Linked DNA regions of Homo sapiens. The protein of the gene in region 1 interacts with the protein of each later gene in a pairwise test. Each region holds a gene or a part of one and is shown on either strand. Other genes may lie near its edges.

Region 1 (7,027 bases):
CCCTGAGCTAGACATAGGGTGCTGATTGGTGTGTTTACAAACCTTGAGCTAGATACAGAGTGCTGATTGGTGCACTCACAATCCCTTAGCTAGACACAAAGGTTCTCCAAGTCCCCACTAGACTCAGGAGCCCAGCTAGGTTCACCCAGTGGATCCTGCACCAGGGCCCCAGGCGGAGGTGCCGGCCAGTCCCGCTGTGTGCCCGCACTCCTCAGCCCTTGGGCTTTTGATGGGACCAGGTGCTGCGGAGCAGGGGGTGGCGCTCGTTGGGGAGGCTGGGGCGCGCAGGAGCCCACGGTGGCAGGGGGAGGCTCAGGCATGGCGGGCTGCCGGTCCCCAGCCCTGCCCTGCGGGGAGGCAGCTAAGGCCCCGTGAGAAATTGAGCACAGCAGCTGCTGGCCCAGGTGCTAAGCTCCTCACTGCCAGGGGCTTGCGGCCAGCCGGCTGCTTGGAGTGTGGGCCTGCGGAGCCCACACCCACCCAGAACCCTCACTGGCCGGCAAGCGCTGCGCGCAGCCCCAGTTCTCACCGGCACCTCTCACTCCACACCTGCCTGCAAGCTGAGGGAGCCAGCTCCGGCCTTGGCCAGCCCAGAGAGGGTCTCCCACAGTGCAGCAGCAGGCTGAAGGGCTCCTCAAGCACCGCCAGAGTGGGCGCCAAGGCCGAGGAGGTGCCCAGAGTGAGCGAGGGCTGCGAGGGCTGCCAGCATGCTGTCACCTCTCACTATGAACATTTCATGTGCAGGTTTTTGTGTGGATATATTGTTAAACTCATTTAGGTAAATATGATCACTGGATCATATGGCAAGACTGTTTAGCTTTGAAAAAGACTACCCAATTGTCTTGCAAAGTGGCTTTTCCATTTTGCATCCCCACCAGCAATAAATAGAAATTCTTGTTGCTTCACATTCTTGCCATCATTTGATGTTGTCAATGTTTTGGATTCTAGCCATTCTAATAGGTATGTAATGGTATCTCATTTTTGTTTTAATTTGCAATTTCCTGATTACATATGATGCTGAACATCTTTTCATATGTCTATTTGCCATCCATATTTCTTTTTTGTTGAGGAGTTTGTTCAGATCTTTTGCCCACTTTTCTTTTTTTTCTTTTTTTGAAACGGCGTTTCACTCTTGTTGCCCAGACTGGAGTGCAATGGCATGATCTCGGCTCACTGCAACCTCCACCTCCCAGGTTCAAGCAATTCTCCTGCCTCAGCCTCCTGAGTAGCTGGGATTACAGGCTCCTGCCACCACGCCCAGCTAATTTTTATATTTTTAGTCGACACAGGGTTTAACCATGTTGGCCAGACTGGTCTGGAACTCCCAACCTCAGGTGATCCACCCACCTCAGCCTCCCAAAGTGCTGGGATTACAGGCATGAGCCACCATGCCCGGCCTTGCCCACTTTTTAACTGGGGTATTTTCTTATTATTAAGTTATCAGAATTCTTTGTATATGTTGGATGTAGTCCTTTGTCAAATATGTGTCTGGCAGGTTTTCTTCCAGTCTCTATGGCTTCTCTTTTCTTTCATTTTCTTGTTTTTTATTTTTTTTTATTTTTTGAGTCTTTCTCTGTAGCCCAGGCTGGAGTGCAGTGGAGTGATCTCAGCTTACTGCAACCTCCACCTCCCGGGTTCAAGCGATTCTCCTGCCTCAGCCTTCCGAGTAGCTGGGACTGCAGGTGCACACCAACATGCCCAGCTAATTTTTTTATTTTCAGTAGAGACAGGGTTTCACCATGTTGGCCAGGCTGGTCTCAAACTCCTGACCTCAGGTGATCCGCCTGCCTCAGCCTCCTAAAGTGCTGGGATTACAGGCATGAGCCACCATTCCCGGCCTCTTTTCATTTTCTTAACAGTATCTTTCACAGAGTAGAAGTTTATAATTTTAATGAAGTTGAATTTATCAATTTTTTTTGTTTCATGTATCATGCTTTTGGTATTATATATGAAAACTCATAGCCAAACCCAAGGTCAGCTAGATTTTCTCCTGTATTACCTTCTAGAAGTTTTGCAGTTTACATTTCAGTATATAACCCATTTTGAGTTAATATTTGTGACAGGGATGAGGTCTGTGTCTAGATTCACTTTTTTACATATGGATATTCGTTGTTCCAGCACCATTGCCTTTGTTTCTTTGTCAAGGATCAGTTGACTCTATTTATGTGGATCTATTTCTGGGCTCTTTATTTGGTTTCATTGATTCATTTGTCTGTTTCTTCACCAATACCACACTGTCTTAATTACTATCATTTTATAGTAAGTCTTTTTTTTTTTTTGAGATGGAGTTTTGCTCCTGTTGGCCAGGCTGGAGTGCAATGTCACGATCTCAGCTCACTGCAACCTCTGCCTCCTGGGTTCAAGCGATTCTCCTGCCTCAGCCTCCCAGGTAGCTGGGATTACAGGTGCCCACCACCACACCTGGCAATTTTTGTATTTTTAGTAGAGACGGGGTTTTACCACATTTGCCAGGGTGGTCTTGAACTCCTGACCTCAGGTGATCCACCCACCCGCCTCGGCCTCCCAAAGTGCTGGGATTACAGGTGTGAGCCACCACGCCTAGCCTAGTAAGTCTTAAGGTCAGGTAGTGTCAGTTTTCCACCTTTGTTCTTTTTTAATATTGTGTTGGATATTCTGGATCTTTTGCCTCTCCACATAAACTTTGGAATCAATTTGTCGATATCCATACAGTAATTTGCTGGGATTTCTTTATTGCAATTGCATTGAATCTATAGATCAAGTTGGGAAGAACTGACATCTTAACAATATTCATTCTTCCTATTCATGTGCATGAGATAACTATTTGTTTAGTTCTTGATTTTATCAGAGTTTTATAGTTTATAGTCTTTTCCCAGAGTTTTATATTTCTCCTAATATAGATCTTACACATATTTTGTAAGATTTATACCTAAGTATTTCAATGTTTGTGTTAATATAAATGGCATTGCATTTTTAACTTGAGCTTTCCATTGCTTATTGCTAGTATGTGGGAAAACATTTGACTTCTGTGTATTAACCTTACTTCTTGCAACCTTGCTGCAATCACTTATAAGTTCCAGGAGTTTTTTTGTTCTTTTTTTTTTTAATAGATTCTTTGAGATTTTCTGCATAGACAATCAGTCATCTGCAACCAAGGCAATTTTATTTCTTCCTTTCCAAAATATATATCTTTTATTTCCTTTTCTTGGCTTATTCCATTAGGTAGAACTTCTAGTATGATGTTGAAAGAGAGTAGAGAGAAGGGACATCTTGTCATGTTCCCAGTCTTAGGGGTAAAGCGTGTAGTTTCTCACTGCTAAGTATGGTGGTAGCTGTATGTTTTTTGTAGATGTTCTTAATCAAATTGAAGAAGTTCCCCTCTATTCCTAGTTTACTTAGAGCTTTTATCATGAATGAGCATTGGATTTTGTCAAATGCTTTTTCTGTGTCTACTAATATGATTGTGTGACTTTTCTCCTTTAGCCTGTTGATGTGATAGGTTTATGTTAATTGATTTTCTAATGTTAAACCAGCCTTGCATACCTAAAGTAACTCCTATTTGGTCATGTGGTATAATTTTTCAAATACATCATTGGATTCAATTTGCTAATATTCTTGGAGAGGAAGTTTGTTTGTTTGGTTGGTTGGTTGTTTTTTTTTTTTTTTCTTTGAGACAGGATCTCGCTCTTTTCCCCGGTCTGGAGTGCAGTGGTGCAATCATGGCTCACTGCAGTGAGAGGAAGATCTGAGAATTACCTCCCCTCCTTTCACTTGACTGGCCCATCAAACTCTTTCTTTGCTGCAAAACTCGCTGTTTTTAGTGCATTGGTTTTCTGAACAGCAGGCAAGATGAACCCGTCAGGCTGTTACTTGCTTCCAGCTGTCTCTTCTTCCTCTTCCCTCTCCTTCCCTCTCTCCCACCTCCTCACTCTACACCTTCTCCTCATGCTGCTTTGTTCATACTCTAGGTCTCAACTACCTGAGGCTCCAGCTCAGACTTCCCTTCTGAACCCCAGACCCACCCAGCATCTCAGCCAGCCAGCTGCCCACCCAGCATCTCAAAGTCCACCACCTTGTCTGCAGCGTGGAAAACTGCTCCTCTGTCAGGGCCTGCTGTCTCCCCAGTCACTCAAACCCAAACCGCCTAGGTTTCTCCCCTCTCCTTCTCTGCATAGTTGCCTTCAGTCCCTTCCATTTGGCAGCAATTCCTCTTCCCCCTCCTCCATCTCCACTGCTACAGTTTTGATTTAGGCCCACATGGCTTCCCAGAGACCCCCTCCTAGCTAGGCCCTTTGCCTCCAGCTCTGCAGAAGGCAAAGCTGATCCTGTGTGCACCCTCTGAACATCTCCAGCGCCTCAGGATAAAGTCCAGGCTCCTTAGCTGGGCAGATCAGACCCTTCTTCTGGTGCCTCCCCAAATGTGCCCTGCCCTCTGGCCATTCTGAACCTTTCATAGTTCCCCACACTCATCACATTCTCTGCACATGCTGTTCTGGCAGGAGAGCCCGTTGCCCCCCACTCAGGCACCGTCCCTTCCCCACCCAGGTGAATTTCTTCTGCATTCAGCTTCAAATTGACTGAGATGCCTGTCTCTCCTGCAGCTTCTCTCTCCCCAGACAGCCTCTCAGAGTGCTTAACACCTCTCATTCTCAAACCAGCTGAACGTTAGGCTCACCTGGGAAGCTTTAAAAATACAAAAATGTTAGCTGGGCGTAGTGGTGCATGCCTGTAGTCCCAGCTACTCGGGAGGCTGAGGCAGGAGAATCGCTTGAACCCAGGAGATGGAGGTTGCTGTGAGCCGAGATCGTGCCATTGCACTCCAGCCTGGGCAACGAGAGTGAAACTCCATCTCAAAAAAATAAAAATAAAAATAGACACCCTGGCCACAGCCCAGATAATTAATTTCAAATCTCCACTGGCCTCATGAATAGCACAGATTAGATACTAATACTCTGGGGGCCGGTCTGGACCACAGGTGTCCTCTCAGTGCAGGCATTACTGTCTATCCCAGAGGCTCCGTTGGGCCAAGAGCACCACTTTTCATACAGTGATAATGATAATTATTTCCATGCATTCTTCCACTTAATCTCACAAACTCCCTGTGAAGTTCGTAAGTATCAGAGTCCCATTTTACAAATGGGAAACGAAAGCAAAGAGGTTAAGTAATTTGCCTGGGGCACAGTGTACATTCAATGAGTACCAGTTCCTCAGTGACTTCAAGTGCAAATTGGGAGTAGAAAAGGAGAAAAGCTTTACAAGTTACTGTGTTCATTCATTCAGTGACAATTCTACAAATGACAGTTGAAGGCCTGTTCTGGGCAAGATGTTGAGATTTAGCAAATGAATAAGGTATTAGGACCCCTGCCCTTAAGAGGTCTCTTTGTAAAGGGAAGTAATGTAAATAAAATAATAGATAATTATAATACACTGAGGTTAAGTTTAGTGATCAAGGGGTGCCCTAGGGATTCTGGGAGTCCACAGAGTGCCCTGAGGGGAATCCTAGAGGCTAACTGGGAGTTAGTGGGAAGGTAAAGGGCTGGGATGGGGAGGCCTGGGAGGAAGGCCTCCCAGGTAGAGGAGTGGCTGAAGCCAGCCTCTGAGATGCCACTGGGCTTAATCCACAGCAGGAGCCACAAACCCAAAACATCTGCTGTGGCTGATGGGAAATAAAAGTGAATCCAGCAGGTTTAAGAGAAAGAACAACATTTATGTGCAGTGATAATGGGCAGCTGATGTGCCAGCTGCAGCATCTGGAGGTGGCAGGGACAGTGGTTTAATGGAAAGAACCTATTATGCACCAAAGGAACTCTCTGCATAGCAGCTGCTGTCCGTGTGGGACGATGGGCCCAGCATTGCCAGATCTGTAAACTTTTATAAAAGAAGCTGGTGTAAACTAAACATAAAATTCAGAGGCCCCCCATCCATCTGAATGGACTTCCTTCTCAGCCAGGGCACTCCAAAGTTAACCTGAAAGACCAGTTCAGGCCTTGATGGGAAGCAAGGGTTGGACACGCCTCATTATACCCTCCTCCCTTTTGGAATTCAGGAAAAGTTGACCAACATTTAACATCAACACAGACCTTAAGTCTGATAAGAAACATTTACAATCTATTCTCTCTGAAGCCTGCTACCTGGAGGCTTCATTTGCATGATCAAAACTTTTATCTCTTTTATTCTAACCCAGATATTCCTTTCTATTTATAGTAACTCTTTTAACCAATTACCAATCAGAAAAATTTTAAATCTACTTATCACCTGGAAGCTCCCCCCTCCCAACCTTGGAGTTGTCCTGCTTTTCTGGACCAAATCGGTATATATCTTAAATGTATTTGATTGATGTCTCAGGTCTGCCTGAAATGTATAAAACCAAGCTGTGCCCTGACCACCTTGGGCACGTGGTCTCAGGATCTCCTGAGGGCTGTGTCACAGGCCATGATCACTCACATTTGGCTCAGAATAAATCTCTTCAGACTGGGTGCAGTGGCTCACACCTGTGATCCCAGCACTTTGGGAGGCTGAGGTGGGTGGATCACTTGAGATCAGGAGTTCAAGACCAGCCTGGCCAACATGGTGAAACCATGTCTCTACAAAAACATACAAAAATTATCTGGGTGTGGTGGTGCATGCCTGTAGTCCCAGCAACTCAGAAGGCTGAGGCAGGAGAATTGCTTGAGCCCAGGAGGCAGAGGTTGCAGTGAGCCAAGATTGTGCCACTGCGCTCCAGCCTGGGTGACAGAGCGAGACTTCATCTAAAAAAAAAAAAAAAAAAAAGTACATCTCTTCAAATATTTTACAGAGTTTGACTGTTTTTGTTGACACTGGAAATCTGATATTGAAACTACAATTCTTTGAATGTTGGCAACAAATTCAAATCCTAACATAGTGTTCTGTAAGAGCCAAACAAAAATGTCTGTGGGATGTGTTAAACTAACTGTAGCCTAAAGCTGCCTTCTTATATATTCTAAGTTCAGCCTAAAGGTTTCTCTGTACGTAGTAAACTGTAACCTGACTAGGAATTTAAACAGACTGCAATCTACTCTTGTACCAG
Region 2 (7,027 bases), on another chromosome or scaffold:
CAAAACATAACAAAACAAAACAGTGACTACCACTGTTCTCCACATGGTTTTGCCTATCTTGCTAAGTTTCCATGCCAAACCATTTTTTTTTAAAGGAAAGGTATTTATATCCCTTCTTAATAACTTAGTGTGAAACTCTAGGACATATTCTCTTAAAGACCTCTTCCTTACTAATAGACAAACACAAATCATTCTTAAAATTAAATATTGTTTTCTAGCTCTAGCATAAAAAAATAGTAGAGGCTGTAAGACAAAAGCTGACAAAACACAAAGCTTTCACAAACCATGGTTTATACAATACTTTATCTTACACTATTAACACTTTATTGAAAATATTTCTATTGAAAAGAACTCTGGAAACACATAAAAATATTTGGTAAGAAAACAAAAGCACATCTTTACTACCAGTGTGAATTACTACCTGACAATTATCAACTTCTCAAATAAGAACATTAACCTACTTGTGATTGAAGAAAGAATTATCCTGTCTATGGATGACATAAGCAACTTGGCCAGGACAGAACCAATGGATGAAACCACATATAAATCCAATTTGGCCAGTTAACTTATGTAAGTGAAATGAAACAGTTAACTTTATTCATTAATATGATCAAAACATTATCTTTACTTCCAAGATCTGCAAAAACTTAATTATCCAAATAATTTAAGTTTGGAATTTATATATTTTTCAATACATAAAGGGTAAGGAAACTCTTATACAGTAATGAGACGGAAAGAAAACAACAGCTTCCCGTGAAAAAGACCTAATGTAGTCAAATATAAAAATAAGTACAGTAGCCTCTTTTTTTTTTTTTTTTTTTTTGAGACGGAGTCTCACTCTGTCGCCTAGGTTGGAGTGCAATGGCGCAATCTCCACTCACTGCAACCTCTGCCTCCTGGGTTCAAGTGATTCTCCTGCCTCAGCCTCCTGAGTAGCTGAGATGACAGGCGTGTGCCACCATGCCTGGCTAATTTTTATTTTGTGTATTTAATAGAGATGGGGTTTCACCATGTTGGTCATGGCTGATCTTAAACTCCTGACCTCAGATGATCTGCCTGCCTCGGCCTCCCAAAGTGCTGGGCTTACAAGTGTGAGCCACCACACCTGGCTGACACCCAGCTGAAATGTAACCTCTTGATAACAGCCAAATCACTGTATTAGAAACATTTAAATTCCAGCTCTGAGGGTCAAGGGTGAGGCATTTAAAAGGTTCCTTTAAGTTAAACCAAATGGATGAATTTTAAAAGAACAAAAGCAATTTATGAACCTATGGGCATATCATTAAAAAAGAAAAAAATTATTAATAAATTCCAAAAGTTAAAAGGAGTTGGGAAAAAAACCTAACTAGAAAGAAAAAATTTTGGTTTCAATTAAGGGGGATTTTTTGGTCCATTTTATGTAAGAGCTTACTCTTTTTCCAAATGGGCATTTATTATTTGCACAGATACATAAAAATGATTCCCATTTTAAAAACCATAATAAAAATATACATTAACCACAGAAGTACTTACTCTAACTGGAAAGAAAATGAACATGGCTATTTTCAAAACAGTAATAAACACAAAAGGTCAACATACATAAATCATGACAAGTGTACATCTCATTTTTGACAAAAATAAGTTCCATTTTTACATTAATGCTTCATCATCAGGCTCCATATTACATCCTCTGACCTTATTTACATTTACTATGAAATTTCTATTAGCATGTGTCACTCAAAGGCACTCAATTCAGAGGGTAAAAAGTCCTGAGCTTAAGTAGGAAACAAAGTTCCCAACTAAAATTTGAACATAAATAATTCTAAAGATCAGAGAATATTAAAATGTTTAAAACTATAATATCTGGTACATAAATAATTCAAAACCTAATAATAAAGGTGTACAGACTGTCAAAGAAAAGACCATGTAAGGCAAGAAATATCCTTGGAATCAAACTGATTTTTCCCTCATTCAAGATCATTTGAAGGTGCAAAGCTAACTTTCACTGTTCTTAAACTCCTAGGAAAGTCAAATTAAAAAAAATAGCAATGACAATGCTTAAGTTTTAAAAAAAGTTTATCAGCTTAGTCTCCAAAACCAGGAAGAAAATATTTAATGATTAAAAACAAGTATGACCTGGAAAGATATTAGACTAAAAGGAGGAATCACAATGAGCAGGTGAAAATGTTAAAGGAAAGCTTTCAATACACCAACTGAAAAAGGCATTTCTAATTGGCCAACCAAATTATTCTTTTAGATTATTTTAGCCAAATAAAAAGAAATTTACAGATGGATAACTGAGGTCCACTAACATAAGGTAGAAACAAAGTTTAAGCTAAAAATTAAATCTATATTTTGTTGCAGATAAATGTGAGATTTACCTACAGCAATTTTCTATTGATGCTAAATTAAAAGCATGAATTGACATCGTTCTAACAGAAATGGTTTGACAGATATTTTCTTGGCTTTAAAATGTTCTTACGCATATGCATAGAAATGCAATGAGGATAAGAATAATCTTCTGTATTGTCTGTACAGTTCATAAGGCCTTTGTCATTGTTAGTCACCTTCGATGTGAATATCAGTAGGGCCATTAAATTAAAGCTGGCCTAAAAAGTTTTCAAAGTGCTACTGTTTCCAACTGATGAAATCTTCAGTTTTCTGGATTTTCTGGGTGACGATTATTTTCAATTCTTTTTTTCTGGTGATATATACAAGAAGTTACAGCAGATATATAAAGGGAAGATCAGAAGCCTGCTGTCCAAGTTCATCACCACTTGTTCCTATAAGACAGATTTGTAGATTCAATGACAATTAGATAAAATAAAAACAAAAAACCAAACTGTTGAACTGAGTGAACCAAAGGAGATAGTGTCCTGAGTCTGAGATCCACAACTCCACTCTCCAAACTCCCACCCATTAGCTGTGTGACCTTGTCAAATGCAGCTTCCTCACTGTAAGATGGGGACAGTAAGAGTACCTGACTTAAAGGAGGATTACAAGAGATAATACACAGGGGGTTTTGCAAAGCCAGCTATCTATTAAGTACTCAATAATGGTAGTTATTTTCATTATTGCAAAAATTTCTATCAAATACTTACATATTTTGTCAACAGATACAATGTCTAGAAATACATAAACTTCTCACTGGGCTTCAATTTTTAAAAAAATTTATTTCCTTTTACAAAATTAATTAATTATTTTTAAAAATGAGATAGGGTCTTTCTATATTGCCCAAGCTGGCCTTGAACTCCTGGGCTCAAGAGATCTTCCTGCCTCATCCTCCCGCCTCAGCCTCCTGAGTAGCTGGGACTACAGGCAGGTGCCACTGTGCCTGGCTACTTGGCTTCAATTACTGATGGCCGTTGGGTACAGCAAATCACCCAGATGAAGGTCGGGAGTCATTATCATCATCAAAAAGCAGGGTTCCTACTATTGACATTTCCCACTGTCCCTATGACAAACATGTAATTTGTCTCCTGAAACATAAAATACATTATCATGGAAAAGCAATTTCAGGTTCAGTTACATCAACACACACAAGAATGCTCAGAACTCCCAGAGACAGGAGCTGACACTACACAAATATAACATCCCTGATGCTACAGATCTCTGTTTGGAACCTCATATATCCTTTACTAGAAGCATTTGGTAAATAGAATCAATCCTCAGAGTAAAAGAAGAAACACTAAAATGAGAATTCCTACGTTTTAAATGCCTGGGATATGCTCTCTGCAATAGTATGCATTAGTTACACTTTATTTATTTTGGATAAGATACTATTAAACACTGTTTAAATCCAAAGTTTTAATTTTTTACTGAGACATGTATTCCTGCATGAAGAGGAACTAAAACTAGAATATCTGTGTGACTGAAGCAGACTCACTAGACACAGCTTCTGTGTTGAGGGAACAAGAAGATAAATTTGAATAAAGAAGGTAGAGAGTACAAATGTCTCACACACACACACACACACACACACACAAACACACAATCTCTCTCTCTGTACGAGGGAAAGTGGTATTATAAAAAGACATCAGTGAACAAAATCAGGGGAGGCCATCACCTAGACTGTGCTAACAAGTGTCACCAGAGAGGAATTATGCCAAAGCATGGTTGGTCTTCAGATGCTTGAGACATCCTGAACTAGTCAAAATTTATATCAATAATCTGGGTGAAGGCACATTTACCAAATTTGTTGAGGACAAATGTTTTGATGATATGTATATCTGATGATAAAAATCAAGATTCTGTTCCATAACTAAAAGGCTCTGAGGAAGATTAGCCTTCTAGTATTTGAATACAGTTAAGATTGAGGCAGGGAAGGGTAGGTCAAAGGGCCAACTCTGGAGAAAGAAGGAAGGCACGTGGATATCACTTGGCTGAATGGATACACCAATTTTTGAATATTAAATTGTATTAATCCCCACTCTCCATTCCCAAACAGGATAGGTCGATCCGAGCTTCATCAAATCTGTTGTTTCACCTAAAGGTTCAATCTGCATCTACATTTGCATTGAAGTACCTTTATAGCAAAGTTCTATTTTCCTTATTCCATTGTGGATGGAATCTGTGGAGCCCACATATAGCAGCAGCAGAGCAGCAGCAACTTCCTAGGTCCCCATTTCTACTTCCAGACAATTAAATAAATTTCTGGGTATTTGTTGTTGTTGGTAGTGTTTTTTGTCTGTCTGTTTTTGTTTTGAGACAGGGTCTGACTCTGTCACCCAGGCTGGAGTGCGGTGGCATGATCATGGCTCATTGCAGCCTCAGCCTCCCAGGCTCAAGTGATCTTCCTGCCTCAGCTTCCAAGTAGGTGGTACCACAGGCACATGCCACCACGCCCGGCTAATTTTTCAATTTTTTGTATAGATAGGGTTTTGCTAAGTTGCCAGGGCTGGTCTTGAACTCCTGGTCTCAAGCAATCCTCTGGCCTTGGTCTCCCAAAGTGCTGGGATTACAGGCATGAGCTACCACGCCAAGCCTGCAATTTGGCTTTGATTCTCCATCCCAGCTTTTCAATGTCTCACCAGGTTACCTTTTTTGTCCATCTCTTAAATACCAGTGGTCCCTAGGGTTCTATCCTGTCATATTCTCTACACATTTCCTGTACATTATCTCATCCAATTATTATTTCTAGTTCAGGCATTACTTGTAAACTCCAAATCCATTATTCACCAGCCTATCAAATTTTCACCTTGATGCTCTCAAATTAAACATGCCCTAAACAGAATTCATCATCTCTTCACCATCACCAACACTATGTCATGTTCATTTTCCTTCCTATAATTCAAATCTCAGGTAAAACCACTACTGTAAATTAAATTGCTCAAATCAGAAAACCATCTGACATTTCCTCATGCACACACACAATTAAGAATCAAATTCTCAATTGCACCACTTTATTTCCAGAACCCATCAATATTTTCCTCTTCATTGCTACATTCTTTAAGGTTCTTATCACTTTTAATCTGAATTATAGCTATATAATCATAAATTGTTTTATTGCCATTATCATATCTTTAATCCTTCCTACACATTGCTGTCTGACGGAACCTTCTATAGTGAAAATCCATTTAGCATGGTCTTATAAGATGGACAGTTACAAAATAAATATACAAAAATCACTAACTTTCTTACATTATCAAAAACTATTAGAACAAATGATTCATTTCATATTAGCAACTGAAATGTAAAATACTGGCTGGGTGCGGTGGCTTACACCTGTAACCCCAGCACTTTGGGAGCCTGAGGTGGGCGGATCACGAGGTCAGGAGATCGAGACCATCTTGGCCAACAGAGTGAAACCCTGTCTCTACTAAAATACAAAAAAGCTGGGCGTGGTGGCATGTGCCTATAATCCCAGCTACTTGGGAGGCTGAGGCAGGGGAATCGCTTGAACCCGGGAGGTGGAGGTTGCAGTGAGCTGAGATCACGCCACTGCATTCCAGCCTGGCGACAGAACAAGACTCCGTTTCAAAAAAAAAAAAAGAAATGTAAAATACTAAGTGTTATACTTCCAGGAAATACACAGGAACAATATGGGAAAAACTACAAATTTTAGAGACAGACATAAGGGAAGACCTACGTAAATGTAGAAAATACCATATTCCAGAAAGGAAGACATCAATGGTCCACAAACTACTCTACATATTTAATCATATAAATTAAAATCCCCATAGGAATTTTTGCAAGGAAACTTGATAAAATGATCCTACATCCCATACAGGAGAATAATCATGCACAAAGAACTGAGAGATTTTTGAAAAAAAGAAAAATGAAGGTGGTTTTGCGTAACTAAATATTAAAATGCATTTTAAAGTTAGCCTAATTAAAACAATGCCTTGTCTTCATAACAAAGAAATCAATAAAACAAAAAGTCCAGAAATGAAAGCAAGTTTATAAGTATTTCATGTACAATAAGGCATTTCAAATACATTGATACATCCAGTACATTTCAGATATATCGTCAAATACTCCAAAGTAAAAAATTAAGCCATAAAAAGAACAGAAGAATATATAGATGACTATTTATATAATCCTAGTAAGATGGAGGCCTAAGGATAACACCAAAAAAAAGAAATCATAAAAGAAAAAGATAGATTGTTTTGAAGGTTGAAAAGACAAATGACAAAAATGTAAAAACTGTTTGGGCCTGGTGGCTCATGCCTGTAATCCCAGCACTTTGGGAGGCGGAGGCAGGTGGATCACTTGAGCCTAGGAATTCCAGACAAGCCCAGGCAACGTGGCAAAACCTCGTCTCTATAAAAAAATACAAAAAAGTTAGCTGGGCATGGTGGTGCGAGCCTGTAGTCTCAGCTACTTGTGAGGCTGAGGTGCGTGGAAAGGTTGGGCCCAGGAGGTGGAAGCTGCAGTGAGCCAAGATTGTACCATTGCACTCCAGCCTGAGTGACAGAGTGACAACCTGTCTCGGAAAAAAAAAAAAAAGTAAAAACTATAGAGTATCACAAATGTATTTTTAATATATAAAAGCTGTTAAAAATTAGCAAGAAAAAAATGAAATTTTAATAAAAAATTAAACAGGAAC
Region 3 (7,027 bases), on another chromosome or scaffold:
AAGACTTAAAATCTTATGTAATGTTTGCAAATCATTTGCTTTAGTTTCCTTTTGTTCAATAAGCAAAACGATTTTAGAAACCCATACTTTATTTTTTTTGTTCCAGCTCTGTTCAGATTAAGGTTATACTTAAAATAATCCAAACTTTAAAATAGAAATTAGATGGGGATGATTTAATGGAGAATAATTTTCAAAGTGTTTGTTTGGGTAGCTAATTCACCCTTTGCAATTACAGTACAATATTTACACATAAAAAAGTAATTTACCCACAACTTTTTGGAACATACTTAGGTACACCAAGCCACATTTTTTTGTGGTCAGTCTTGTGACTTGTTAGAAAAAGCAGCTGGCTGCCTGTGTAGAGCCAGACTTACACTTGGATTGTAGTTTAATTTTTGTCTTTTTACCTTTTTTTTTATTTTTTTGAGACAGAGTTTCACTTTTCACCCAGGCTGGAATACAGTAGTGTGACCTCGGCTCACTGCAACCTCCACCTCCTGGGTTCAAGCGATTCTCCTGCCTCAGCCTCCTGAGTAGCTGGGAGTACAGGCACCCGCCACAATGCCCAGCTAATTTTTGTATTTTTAGTAGAGACAGGGTTTCACCATGTTGGCCAGGCTGGTCTTGAACTCCCTACCTCAGGTGATCCACCTACCTCGGCCTCCCAAAGTACTGGGATTACAGGTGTGCGCCACTGTGTAATGTTTTTACATTAAAAACAAATTCCTGAATTAATGGGCATATTTGCTTAATATATCCATGGTTGCTTTGACTTCTGACTGTTGAGCTTTTCAATTATCATTTAACTTTTGGTTAAATTCACTTTTGAAGTTAGTTTTTTGGGTTTGTTTTTTGTTTTTTGTTTTTAGATGGAGTCTTGCTCTGTCACCCAAGCTGAAGTGCAGTGGTGTGATCTCGGCTCACTGCAACCTCTGCCTCCCAGGTTCAAGTGATTCTCCTGCCTCAGCCTCCCAAGTAGCTGGGATTACAGGCGCACACCACCACGCCTGGCTAATTTTTGTATTTTTAGTAGAGACAGGTTTTTGCCATGTTAGCCAGGCTGGTGTTGGACTCCTGACCTCAAATAATCCTCCTGCCTTGGCCTCCCAAAGTGCTGGGATTACAGGTGTGATCCATGGTGCCTGGCCTGTTTTTAATTATTTTTTTTATTTTTTGAGACAGTGTCTTACTCTGTTGCCCAGGCTGGAGTCCAGTGGTGCAATTATGGCTCACTGCAGACTCAACCTCCCAGGATCAAGTGATCCTCCCAACTCAGCCTCCCAAAGAACTTGGACCACAGGCGCACGCCACCATGCCCAGCTAATTTTTGTATTTTTTGTAGAGATAGGTTTTGACCATGTTGTCCAGCTAGTCTCGAATTCCTGGGCTCAAGCTATCTGCCCGCCTCAGCCTTCCAAAGTGCTGGGATTATGGGTGTGAGCCACTGCGCCCAGCCAAGTGTAGTCTTACATGTTAGTGTTTACAGAGGAACTGTACGACCTTTGTGCAGATAAATATTTCATAACAAGAGGTTCGTTATTGGTCAGGTTGCTGTTCTCATCTCCTTAGCAAGGGTGGGGATAATGGTAAAGAAAACTTGTGTGTTTGATTTTCTTTTCTCAGTATCTTCTCTCTTCTGAATTTGAATGTTTTAAGGAATTAAATCAAAGGTGGATGAGCTAAAAGCAGCCTATGACCGGGAGGAGTCTACAAACTTGGAAGACTATGAGCCTAACACTGTAGCCAGTTTGCTGAAGCAGTATTTGCGAGACCTTCCAGAGAATTTGCTTACCAAAGAGCTTATGCCCAGATTTGAAGAGGCTTGTGGGAGGACCACGGAGACTGAGAAAGTGCAGGAATTCCAGCGTTTACTCAAAGAACTGCCAGAATGTAACTATCTTCTGATTTCTTGGCTCATTGTGCACATGGACCATGTCATTGCAAAGGAACTGGAAACAAAAATGAATATACAGAACATTTCTATAGTGCTCAGCCCAACTGTGCAGGTACATGGTCTTCTCTACACATATACCCTCTGGTACTGACATTGGGGAACTGGGGTAATTTTCTATTGCTGAGTCACATGTAAAGCAGTGAACTTGAGGAGATAGGTAATGGATTAGCTTGAATACGGGTCTTTTCCTTTCATAATTTGGACAGTGTCAATGTATAAGATAACATACTTGCCCTTTAGCTTGTAGTGATGTAATTTGAATGCGGTACAGTCTTTGATGTGGGTTTATAAACAAGACCTGATGACAAGGATCCTTCATTAGGGGAGGAGGAGCCCATGGCATCTACAGTTATAGAGTTCGTGTGTAGAATTTTAGAGATCCCAGTTATTTAATCAATAGCATTATTGCTTCGTTAGATCACAGACACACATCAAACTCAGGCACAAAGGGACCTGTCATTAATTGTTTGGTCAAAGATTTAGCCTGAGGATTTCATTCATAAGGATGGATCCTAGAGAGACATGTTATAGGCTCTGAATCTGAAAAGGAACTTCAGGGAATTGGGTAGTGTGTTAATTGGTATCTTTTTACGACATACATACTTGGCTTTCCTTTATTGCTGCTCAGTTGGTGCTGTCATAGAGTATATGTTTTCTTTTAATTGCAGTTAATGATATTTTACTCAGGCCAATAAAAAGGGAGATGATAGGTTATATTTATTATCTTAAGCCCTCTTTTTGGCCAGTATTCTGAGTCACCATAAATCACTGTCACTGTTATTAGAGAGTGTTTTCATTTACTAAAGAGCGTTTCAGTCAGGCGCGGTGGCTCACACCTTTAATGCGAGCACTTTAGGAGGCTGTGGCAGGAGGATAGCGAGAGGCCAGGAGTTCAGCCTAGGCAACATAGCAAGACCCTGTCTCTACATAAAAATTAAAAATTAGCTGGGTGTGGTAGCATGTATGTGTAGTCCCAGTTACTTCGGAGGCTGAGGTAGGAGGATTGCTTGAGCCCAGCAGTGAGCTATGATCATGCCACTGTACTCCTCTCTGGGTGACAGAGCAAGATTTTATCTCTAAAAAATAAAGATTCTTCTGTTACTCATTGATTACGCTTTGAAAGCAAAATGTTTCTCAGATTTTAGTTTGATCATTAGGATTTCAGGATCTGGTAAATATTACATTGATACTTAATATTACTATAATATAATAGAGATGGTTGTATCATAGAAGAGTCAAGTGTGTTGTAAGAGTAAGTTTTAGGTAGGAAATAATTTCTTGTAGTAGCTTTTCAGCCAACCTAATGCCCTGGCCTCCTAGCATATGAACATCCATACTTAAATGCTGGCTGTGTCCAGGTATTTGTTTCTGGAGTGAGGGCTTTCAACCTCAACCCAGCTTTACTACTGTGGTGCTCCCACTTCCCTCATGGTCCTCATTCATTCCATTGCGTCTGTTAAAATATGTCAAAGTAAGTTGAAAATAAAGAATATAAGATGTTTTAGCCGGGCATGGTGGCTCACGCCTGTAATCGCAGCACTTTGGGAGGCTGAGGTGGGTAGATCATTTGAGGTCAGCAGTTCGAGCCCAGCCTGGCCAACATGGTGAAACTCCGTCTCTACTGAAAATACAAAAAAATCAGCCAGGTATGGTGGCACACGCCTGTAATCCCAGCTTACCGGGGAGGCTGAGGCAGGAAAATCGCTTGAACCCGTGAGGTGGAGGTTGCAGTGAGCTGAGATTGTGCCACTGCACTCTAGCCTGGGCTACAGAGCGAGGCTCCATCTCAAAAAAGCACCACCACCGCCACCAACAACAAAAAACACACAAAAAATAAGATGTTTAAATCAGTTAATACTGTGATAGAAAAAATAAACAAATGGATGGCATCAACTTCTCTATCCTTTTCTTGACTTTTTTTCCCTTCAGATCTTTCTGGTGCTTGAATACATGATTTAACTCATATTTTACCATTTTCTTCTTAAATTGGCTATTAACTAGCAAAGACTGTGTTGTCATTACTGGGTAGAATTTTCTTTATGTGTCCAGGATTAAAGGATATATTATGTAATAGACACAAATAAGTGAAATAGAATGATAGTTTTAATGGTTTTCTTGTAAATCTTTTTTTCTTAGATCAGCAATCGAGTCCTGTATGTGTTTTTCACACATGTGCAAGAACTCTTTGGAAATGTGGTACTAAAGCAAGTGATGAAACCTCTGCGATGGTCTAACATGGCCACGATGCCCACGCTGCCAGAGACCCAGGCGGGCATCAAGGAGGAGATCAGGAGACAGGTGTGTGCACCCTGCCTGCCACAGCCTGCCTCTGCATTGGCTGTTGTGGAGTCCAGTGGTGATGGGCTCTTGTTTCCTGAACACTTTCTGTGTGTCTGGAGCTATGTTAGGCACACTGAAGTCAGAAATTCCCATCTGGTACTGTTTCATGCCAAATAAGTCAGAATACCATGGTGGAAAGAGCATAGTTTTTGGAATCAAAACACCTGGCTTTAAATTCTTGCTCTGATCTAGTTAACTGATTTTAGGCAAATTCTTAACCACCTTAAGCACTGGTGTTCTTGCTTTAAAATGGATCCTCTTATAGGATTGATGTGAAGATTACCCCAAATGAGATAATATATGAAACATGCCAGGCACGTTGTAAATAGTCTAAAGATGTTTGCCTTTTCTTGACAAGGTTGCTGTCATCAGCCATATTTTATAGATAAGAATATTAAAATTCAGGGAAGTTAAGTAACTTACCCTGTGTGACATGATTACTAATTACAGACCCAAGATTTGAGCCCAAATCCTGGGATTTTTTACTGTGCTATTTTGATGGAAGTAACAATGCCGTGTGTGTGTGTGTGTGTGTGTGTGTGTAATTCAAGACTAAATAAGAAAGTTAATTACATTTGATTATTTATTTGCATGCAATTTATCAAACCCCTGCTTGCTTTTCTTCCCTTGTATCTGCCCTGAGCTCCCAATGCTTACTAGTTAATGATGATGACATTGGAGATGGGGATGTGGATTAAGTATTATTGAACCAATACAAATTAGTGAATAATTAATAGGCAAAACAATAAGAATGATTTTTCAATCATATCTTCAAAAAAATAATTAGTGCCATTATTTTACTCTAATGAAATAAAGGATAATTGAAAAATAGTTGATTCTTCATCTTTAGAAATTGCACGTGTTGTTAGTTTAAGATAAGAGGATATGAAATGCAACTAGGTGTGTGGCATTTGCTTTCTAGGAGTTTCTTTTGAATTGTTTACATCGAGATCTGCAGGGTGGGATAAAGGATTTGTCTAAAGAAGAAAGATTATGGGAAGTACAAAGAATTTTGACAGCCCTCAAAAGAAAACTGAGAGAAGCTAAAAGACAGGTGAGTTATTATTTTGATACCTAATGTTTATAATAGAATGTGTTTGAGTCTTTTATGTACTTTATGTACTCTTTTTTTTTCTTTCTTTCTTTTTTCTTTTGATGTTGACCAGGGTGGTCTCAAACTCTTGGCCTCAAGTAATCCTCCCACCTCGGCCTCCCCCAGAGTGCTGGGATTACAGACATGAGCCACCACCCCCAGCCCAAGTTCTTTCTGTTAAGAATATTATAATGTCACTTGAAGTGAACTTCTCTGGTGGGACATTTATTCACTAAAATGTTTCTAGTCCTATATTATTGATATTGCAGCCTGGTGTCAGTCACATGTTTCAGTGTAATCTAGAAAGTTTTTTTTTTTTTTTTTTTTTGAGACAGGATCTTGCTCTGTCACCCAGGCTGGAGTGCAGTGGCACGATAATGGCTCACTGTAGCCTCGACCTCCTGGGCTCAAGGGATCCTCCTACCTCAGCCTCCTGAGTAGCTGGGACTACAGGTGTGCGCCACCATGCTCGGCTCATTTTTTATTGTTTGTAGAAATAGGGTCTTGTTATGCTGCCCAGACTGGTCTCAAACTTCTGGGCTCAAGCAGTCCTCCCACCCCCCAAAGTGCTAGGATTATAGGCATAAGCCACCATGCCTGGCCTAGAAAGTTTTGTTTTAATTAAAAATGATTTTACTAAAAAATTTGTCATTTCCTGCTTGGTTATACCTGTAAACAGGGCTTTCTATGGATGAAAAACAGGCTGGATGGTGACACACCTTTGGGGACTGCTGGGGAATTTAAGGCATTTAGAATTAGTCAGCTCTTTGGAAATGTAGTGATGAGGGTCACCTGGAAGGCCTTGAAGATCAGGAGAGATTCTATTTATGTAATAATAATAAGAGTGGCCTGCAATACCTGATGAGTTTAGGGTATGCCAGTCAGACTTTTGAGTTCCCTCTTGTTTAGTGTGTGTTGCTTGGTTCTGGGACTGTGAGTGTACCAGCCACAGCAATGGTAAAATCCCAGATCTCTGGATCACCTTAAAATCCACATTGCAGATCAACTGCAGCATCTAAACAGCACATCCAAGGAACATTAGTTAGCCCTTGCCTGAATTGGGGAACATGATAGTAGGTCTCTGTTGTGGTTGTGTTAAAGAGACAAAGACAACCTGAATACTTCTGTTTCTTTGAGGTTAGAGATTTGTATTAATGTGGAGGATAGCTTTGTCACACGGGGCACATTCATGGGACTTTTACACGTGCGCTCCAGGATATGTAATGTAGCAGAAGCCCTCTGCGTATTTTTCTTCCTTCTTTTTCCTAGCTCACTAGGTTATCTATCTCTTGCTTCCTTTACGTGTTTTTTGTTTTTGGTGTTGGTGTTGCTGTTAAAATTTTCCCTTCATGTCTCAGCCTAGAATCAGGTATTAGAGATGGACCACTCAGGCTTCAGGGGCAAATTGTAATTGTTAATCATATGGCATTGCCAGTCAGCCTTTAAATGAAGAGTCCCCTGACTGACCTAGGACAGGGCTGATGGAGGTTTGGCTTTTGTTTCTCTTGCTTCTACATCTTGCCTAAATAAAGGAATCATGGTATAGCAGCCAGAACCAATATAAGAAGGGATGGATTAACTTTGCTTTACCGATTTTCCCGATGCTATGTTTTCACGCCAGCTCATTAATTCACAAAATG
Region 4 (7,075 bases), on another chromosome or scaffold:
AGAACCATTTGTTGAAAAACTATTTTTTCCCATTGAGAAGTCTTAACATATTTGTCAAAAATCAATGAATCAGGCCGGGCACGGTGGCTCACACCTGTAATCCCAGCACTTTGGGAGGCCGAGGCAGGTGGATCATGAGGTCAGGAGATCGAGACCATCCTGGCTAACATGGTGAAACCCTGTCTCTACTAAAAATACAAAAAATTAGCCAGGCGTGGTGGTGGGCGCCTGGAGTCCCAGCTGCCCGGGAGGATGAGGCAGGAGAATGGCTAGAACCCGGGAGGCGGAGCTTGCAGCGAGTGAAGAGCACACCACTGCACTCCAGCCTGGGCGACAGAGCGAGACTCCGTCTCCAAAAAAAAAAAAAAAAAAAAAATCAATGAATCATAAATATGATGTTTATTTTTGGACTCTCAATCTTATTTCATTGATCTACATTTCTAGTTTTATGCCACTACCACTCTGAAGACAACTGTGGCTTTAAATTTTTTAAATTGTATTAAAATACACATAACATAAAATCATCATTTTAGTCAATTTTAAGTGTACAGTTAAGTGGCATAAAGTACATTCACACTGTTGTACAACCATCACCAGAACTTTTCCATCATCTCAAATATAGTATAGGGAAATGTGAGTAAGAGGAACTTTTTTCCTGTTTTGGAAAGAAAAGTTTATCTTGGCTACTCTGGGTCTCTTGCATTTCTATATTATATTTTAGGATTAAATTAGCTTCCTGATTTCTACAAAAGAGACAGTTGAGATTTTGATGGGAACTGGAGATGTGAGATTTGTAGATCAATTTGGGGAGTAACAGATTTTAACAATATTAACTCTTCCAATCCATAAACATGGTATGTCTTCTCATTTATTTTGGTCTTCTTTAATTTCTTTCCACAGTCTTATGTAATTTTCAGTACATAAGTCATGGACATCTTGTGTTAATTTATTCCTATTTTATTCTTTTATTTTTTTTGAGATAGGGTCTCACTCTTGTTGCCCGGGCTGGAGTGCTGTGGTGTGATCACAGGTCACTGTAGCCTCGAACTCCTGGGCTCAAGCAATCCTCCTATCTCAGCCTCCTGAGTAGCTAGGACTAAGGCATGCACCACCACACATGGCTAATTTTAAAATATTTCATAAAGGCTATGTTGCCCAGGCTGGTCTGCAACTCCTGGTCTCAAGCAATCCTCTCACCTTGGCCTCCCAGTGTTGGGATTACAGGTGTGAGCCACTGTGCCAGCTACATTTTATTCTTTTCAATACTATTGTAAATTGAATTGTTCTTAGTTTTATTTTTGGATTGTTCATTGCTGGTGTATAGGCTGTGTGTGTGTGTGTGTGTGTGTGTGTGTGTGTGTGTGGATTCCTTAGGATTTTTTATATACAAGATCATGTCATCTGCAAACAGATAGCTTACCTTCTTCCTTTTCAATTGGATGTCTTTATTTCATTTTCTTGCCTAATTGCCCTAGCTAGAAACTCCAGTACAATGTTGAAGAGAAGTGATAAAAGTGGAATTCTTGCCATGCAGAAAAGAGTGAACATAGCAGGCCCGAGACAATAATCCTCAGAAAGGTCTGCCAATCGGGCTGCCAAAATCCTTTTGTTGTAATGAATCATAGCCATGAGTAGGACTATCTCCTGAGTCCTGTAATCCTTGCGTCAAATCATTGAATCTGGTGTGATCTTGGGGAACCCTAATACAATTTTTGTTCCTGATTTTAAGGGGAAAGCTGCCAGTCTTTCACCATTACATATGATGTTAGATGTGGGTTTTTCATAGATGTCCTTCATCAGGTTGAGGAAATTCTATCTCTATCCCATCCTATTTCTAGTTTGTTGAGTTTTTTTTAATCAAGAAAGGTTAGATTTTGTCAAATGCTTTTTTTATTAAGATGATTATGCAGTTTTTGTCTTATTCTATTAGTAAGTTGTATTATATTAATTGATTTTTTTTAAGTTTCTTTTTTTTTAGTGACAGGGTCTTGCTATGTTGTCCAGCTGGACTTGAACTGGGCTCTAATAACCCTCCCACCACAGCCTCCCCAGTAGCTGGAACTAAAGACATGGGCCACCATGCCCAGCTATTAATTGATTTTCATATGTTAAAACCACTCATTCCTAAATCACACTTGGTCTTGGACTTCTATTAAAAGAGACACAAATTTTAAAAATCAACCAAACAAATACATAATTTCAAGTAGTGAAAGTGCTATAAGAATAAAAGAAAAAGCAGGGTAAGGAAAGAGAGAGCAAGAAAGACGGCGGTTATTCGAACTATATTCAGGGAAGGTTTCTCTGAAATAATGACATTTGATCAGAGATCTGAATGACCTGAAGAAGCGAGACATTCAGAGAAAGATAATTCCAGGTGCAAGGACTAGCAAACTGCAAAAGCCCTGAAGCAGGAACCCGCTTAGTGTGTTTAAGGTACAGCTAGAAGGCCATGTGGGCAAGAGTGGAAACAAAGTCAGAAAGAGATGAGAGCAGATCTTACAGGGACTTGTGGGTCATGGTACAGACATTTGGATTTTATTATAATTGTGATGGGAAGGCACTGAAGCATGCTTTTCAGCCTTCTTAAAAGACCTTTCTCCTCCTTAGTTTTCTGGCTAACTCCTATATGTCTTTCAAAATCTAGCATCATCTCCTCTGTGACATGTTCTTTAACTTCCCTGGTAAGATCAGTCCCCTCCTCTGTGACATCTCTGAGTAACAGATTACTGACCTCTTTTCACACTCCTAGTGACCTCATTTGTTTATTTTTTTCACAGAACTGTGTCTTTTTCATATTTTTAACCTCACGTCTAACATAGTGGTGAGTACTAAAGAAACGTTTGATAGGCCAGGCGCGGTGGCTCACGCCTGTAATTCCAGCACTTTGGGAGGTCGAGGCGGGTGGATCACCTGAGGTCAGGAGTTCGAGACCAGCCTGGCCAACATGGTGGAACCCTGTCTCTACTAAAAATACAAAAAAATAGCTGGGCGAGGCAGGAGAATTGCTTGAACCCAGGAGGCGCAGGTTGCAGTGAGCCGAGATCGCGCCATTGCACTCCAGCCTGGGCAACAAGAGCAAAACTCTGTCTCAAAATACAAACAAGCAAGCAAACAAAGAAATGTTCGATAAAAGAAAAACTCTGAGTCATTCAGTGGTGCAAGGTTGGATTCCTTTCAGACCCGACGTAGTTGTCGCCCTGGGAGGTCGGGTGCATTACTTCCCCCAGAGAAAGGTCTTGGGTTTCGGGGATAATGCCCTGGCTGAGAATGCCTCCTAGGGGGAGATCCAACTTCCCAACCGTCAGGTGCTTGCTGTGTTCCCTTTGCACGTCTCTGCCCGTCCTTCCTGGGTGGGACCTTGGTTGGCGGTGAGTGGGGGAAACTTCAGGCTTCCCAGCTCTGCCTCCGAACACTCCTGGCAAACACTTTCAAGGCCTAATCACAAACCCAGGTCCCCCACTTTCCTCTGTAACAACGGAAGTCCCAGCAGCGATGTCCACTCCTGTTCTGGGGCCAGCGTCGCACCGCTCACCCCGCACCTCATCCCTCCGCTCCTCCTTCCTTCTCCTCCACACCCTCTCGGCACCGTGCCCCCTTTCCTCACCTAGGATGCGCGTGATGCCCAGGGTCAGCTTCTCCAGGTGCGGCTTGCTGCAGCCCAGCCCCGGGGACGATGCCTCCTCCTCCATGGCTCGCGACCGCGATTCGCGCGCGGCGGGAGCGGGTGGAGGGCCGGACCCCGCCTCAGCGCCGAGGCCAATTTCATGGCATGCCGGGAACGGTAGTTCTCGGCGCCTGAAAGCGCGGCGCAGTGATGATGGGGGCCCGGGGTTGGTCTGACAGCAGCAGCTCCGTGGGGCGCCGGTTCCCGCGGCCCCGCCCGGTGCCCCACACCGCACCTCCGGGACGTAGCTTCCCCTTCGCCCCCACCCTCTCGCCCCGCAGGGGCCGGCCGCGCAGGCGGGGGCGGGCCTCTGCGTGGTGCGGCCAATGGGGACCGAGCCTGCAGGCCGAGGCGTGGCGGCCCAGGCGCGACGCCCCGAGTGGCGGTTGTTTCAAGATGGCGGACGTGGCGGGCCCCTCCCGCCCCAGTGCCGCGGCGTTCTGGAGCCGGGACTGTATCCTTTGCCCGCCTGACAGGGGGCGCCGGCGCCCTCCACGGGACGGCGAGGGGCGAGCCGTCGCGTGGCAGTCCGAGAGCGGAGGAGAAGCTCCGAACTAACCCCGGGGATGGGGACGTGCTGCTCGGCCCCAGTCTAGGTGCTGGGCTCTCCCCTTGCTTGGGTGTTAGGTGGCCGAGAGACTGGTACTGTCTGCAGGTGTGGGGACACGGCTCAGATGCTTCCCAGCGCTCACTACCGGTGAGCTCGAGAAAGATAGCCTTGAGTCCAGGCTCAGTCCAGGGCTGAGATGGCCCTCCGAGGTCCCTCTGCCCACCCTGTCAGAGTGCCCCCAGGCTGACTTGAGTGTGCGGAGCTAGCTCGAAGTTGAGGGAGGAGTCGGTGTTGGCTGGACAGGGAGCCTTTTTGTTTTGATTTAGGATTGTCTTTAGTCTGCATTGCTAGGAGCAAGTCAGGACCTTTCGGACTTAAAAGGCCCTCCAGTGATGATGTATTTTAATACTGGGGTTTTAGGAGAGGTGTGGAGCTTGGTTACTGGGATGTGGTCTGGTGGTGCTGGTTACTGCGTAAGATGGGAATCATTGTGCCTGGAAGTATTGTTGACTTACTTGTGGAGTGCGGGTCACTGGCAGTCATTGAAGTTCTTGGATCGTTGTGAGGTGGAGAAGCAGTGGAACTTTTTAGTCCAGTGGTAGTATTACCAGTTCAGCAGCAGTGATGAGATGTTTGTGTGACAGGAGTGTTTCTTTCCTTGGAGTAGGTAGACTCTTCTCGCTTGAGCTTTGGTCCTGATAATTTACTTCACGTTCCTTAGAGGGGTTACTTGAAAGAGGGACGGCAATCTGTGTTACTGAGTGCTTGCAGAGGCAGCTCTTTTTGTGTTTGCTAGGATTGGTGATGGCATTAATTGAGGCGTTGCTGTTACCTTTGGCAGAATCACTGGGCATTCTTCTTAGCTCCCAGTGAAACTTACAAAACTGTGTTATCAACTCCTTTGTTGAGTTACTAGGATTAGTGTCATGTGTAGAGAGAGGGATATGTTTGTATTCTGTGCTGCTCGTGTTTAGTGTTTGCACTTACTAGACATAATTACCATTTGTCTCTGATAGGTTGGTGAAAAGCAAATGAAATCATGTACATACACTGTGGATGAAAGCATACTAGTGCAGTGTGCAAATTAAATATTTTTTCCTTTACCTTTCAGAAGAGAATATGTGCACTGTGGACAACTGGGCTGAATTAGGAAGTTAGGAAATTGGGATAAGTCTTTTCTCAAGAAACACTGCTTCTGCATTGACATAATTTTGTGATGGAGGAGATACTTGAAGGTTATTAGCTTATAGCATCCTATGGTACTGTTCAAATATAGAATCAATGGTTTGGGGGGGGGACAAGCTATTGCAATGGGACTGAATAAGTGTATTAATAGATATATGGACTGAACCTAAGCTCTTGGTCTTCGCACCCAGTACTTTCACTTACTCATGTAGTTATATCACCCCCTATTTTATGTAGAAGTCATATATACTCCGTTATCTCTTGTATTCTGACTCCCAACATTTAATGTAAAATATTCGTCCTCTCATAGATAGTGAGGAATTGAAATTGTACAGGGGAAAAATGGTGGCGATTATATCCTATAAGATCTAATTCAGATGTATGAAAGGAATTGCAAAGTTGCTAGTGTCACCTTTCCCCTCAGACTATTCCACGTAATGACCAGTTAACATCGAGCCTCAGATATTTTCATTTTAAATCTCCATAGAGAATGTCACTGTAAGCAATGTCAAATGTAAATTTGTTACTGAATATTTGCTGAAAAGCATAATGATAGTTATTAATCATTTGATTTAGTTACATGTCTTTGCATCTTGATTCCTTTGTCATATTGATTATTTCCCAGACCACCCTAGAGCCTTTATAGTAGAATTTTCAATAGAAAAAGACCAAAAAGTAAGTACCTATAATCTGGTATTCTTTTCACACTATTGAAAAAAGATTTTCAATACTTCACCTAAACATTTAGAGAAATGTGATGGAGAGATTTCTTAGTCCTTGATGTTTCCATCATGAGAGGACAGATCATCTGTGACTCAATGGCACCTTTTTTTTTTATTGTTGTTGTTGTGAGTTATACATCTCCTGCACAGTATGATTCAGCAGTGCTGTTTTGCACAAGGAACGTTTTAGTACCTCATCTGTAAACAATGAGTGTGTGGTGTTGTCATGTTATGGGTTAAATCTTCCAGCAAAATATGCTCCTTCAGTTTAAGTTGCCTTTGTCCTTCATTACAGTTCCTAGTAATGTCAGAATGAGTTAGTGTTTCAGCAGTACCTAAATTTGACTGCTTAAATGCACTCAAGTGTATTACCATTAGCAATATCATGGACTTGATATTAAAAAATATGAACTGCAAGTGACCTGGTCAAAACATTGCAGTATAATCTCTGCTGTTGAGTTTTCAAATGGAAACAAAGACTGTATGTTGTGGTAAAAATAATATATTAGCCCAGAAAGTCTCTGTGGTTGATAATAATTACATATACATGTATTGCTGGCAAAACTCAGCAGATTAGAGTAGAATGGGCAGTACTGAACTTATTTCCTTCAAATCCTGGAGGTCTGGGATAGAGGTGCATCTTCCTCTCTACCACTTCTGCCTGGGTTTCTAATTACAGTTAGCCCTCTGTATCTGCTGATTCATTCAAATGTGGATGGAAAATATTTGAGAAAAAAAAGAAATAGCACACAAAAAAATACAAATTAAACTGTACAATTTAACTACTATTTATATAGCATGTACATTGTTTTAGGTATTATAAATAATCTAGAAATGACCCACTAGTAGGCCCACTATACATTTGGTATATAATGTGTCTGTTTGACTTCCCCATAAAATATACATTTGTTGGGAAATTCTAGATTTGAAGGAGGTAAATATTTGGGTTCTTAA

The links.
Region 2: the proteins of CCDC13 (region 1) and GMCL1 interact in binary tests that used the Homo sapiens proteins (3 or more experiments, as listed by UniProt).
Region 3: the proteins of CCDC13 (region 1) and RALBP1 interact in binary tests that used the Homo sapiens proteins (3 or more experiments, as listed by UniProt).
Region 4: the proteins of CCDC13 (region 1) and KIAA1328 interact in binary tests that used the Homo sapiens proteins (3 or more experiments, as listed by UniProt).

What each region holds. Positions count from the first base shown.
Region 1 is NC_000003.12:42,763,227-42,770,253, reverse strand, and holds part of CCDC13 (coiled-coil domain-containing protein 13), read left to right. Parts: intron 1-7,027. UniProt on the Homo sapiens protein: Required for primary cilia formation and promotes the localization of the ciliopathy protein BBS4 to both centriolar satellites and cilia.
Region 2 is NC_000002.12:69,874,644-69,881,670, reverse strand, and holds the end of GMCL1 (germ cell-less protein-like 1), read right to left. Parts: intron 2,763-7,027; coding exon 2,667-2,762; 3' UTR 287-2,666; downstream 1-286. UniProt on the Homo sapiens protein: Possible function in spermatogenesis. Enhances the degradation of MDM2 and increases the amount of p53 probably by modulating the nucleocytoplasmic transport.
Region 3 is NC_000018.10:9,520,504-9,527,530, forward strand, and holds part of RALBP1 (ralA-binding protein 1), read left to right. Parts: intron 1-1,656; coding exon 1,657-2,006; intron 2,007-4,090; coding exon 4,091-4,252; intron 4,253-5,216; coding exon 5,217-5,348; intron 5,349-7,027. UniProt on the Homo sapiens protein: Multifunctional protein that functions as a downstream effector of RALA and RALB. As a GTPase-activating protein/GAP can inactivate CDC42 and RAC1 by stimulating their GTPase activity.
Region 4 is NC_000018.10:36,825,079-36,832,153, forward strand, and holds the start of KIAA1328 (protein hinderin), read left to right. Parts: upstream 1-4,048; 5' UTR 4,049-4,060; coding exon 4,061-4,118; exon of another isoform or gene 4,119-6,074; intron 6,075-6,088; exon of another isoform or gene 6,089-7,075. Other genes in the region: TPGS2 (tubulin polyglutamylase complex subunit 2), read right to left, coding at 3,605-3,689. UniProt on the Homo sapiens protein: Competes with SMC1 for binding to SMC3. May affect the availability of SMC3 to engage in the formation of multimeric protein complexes.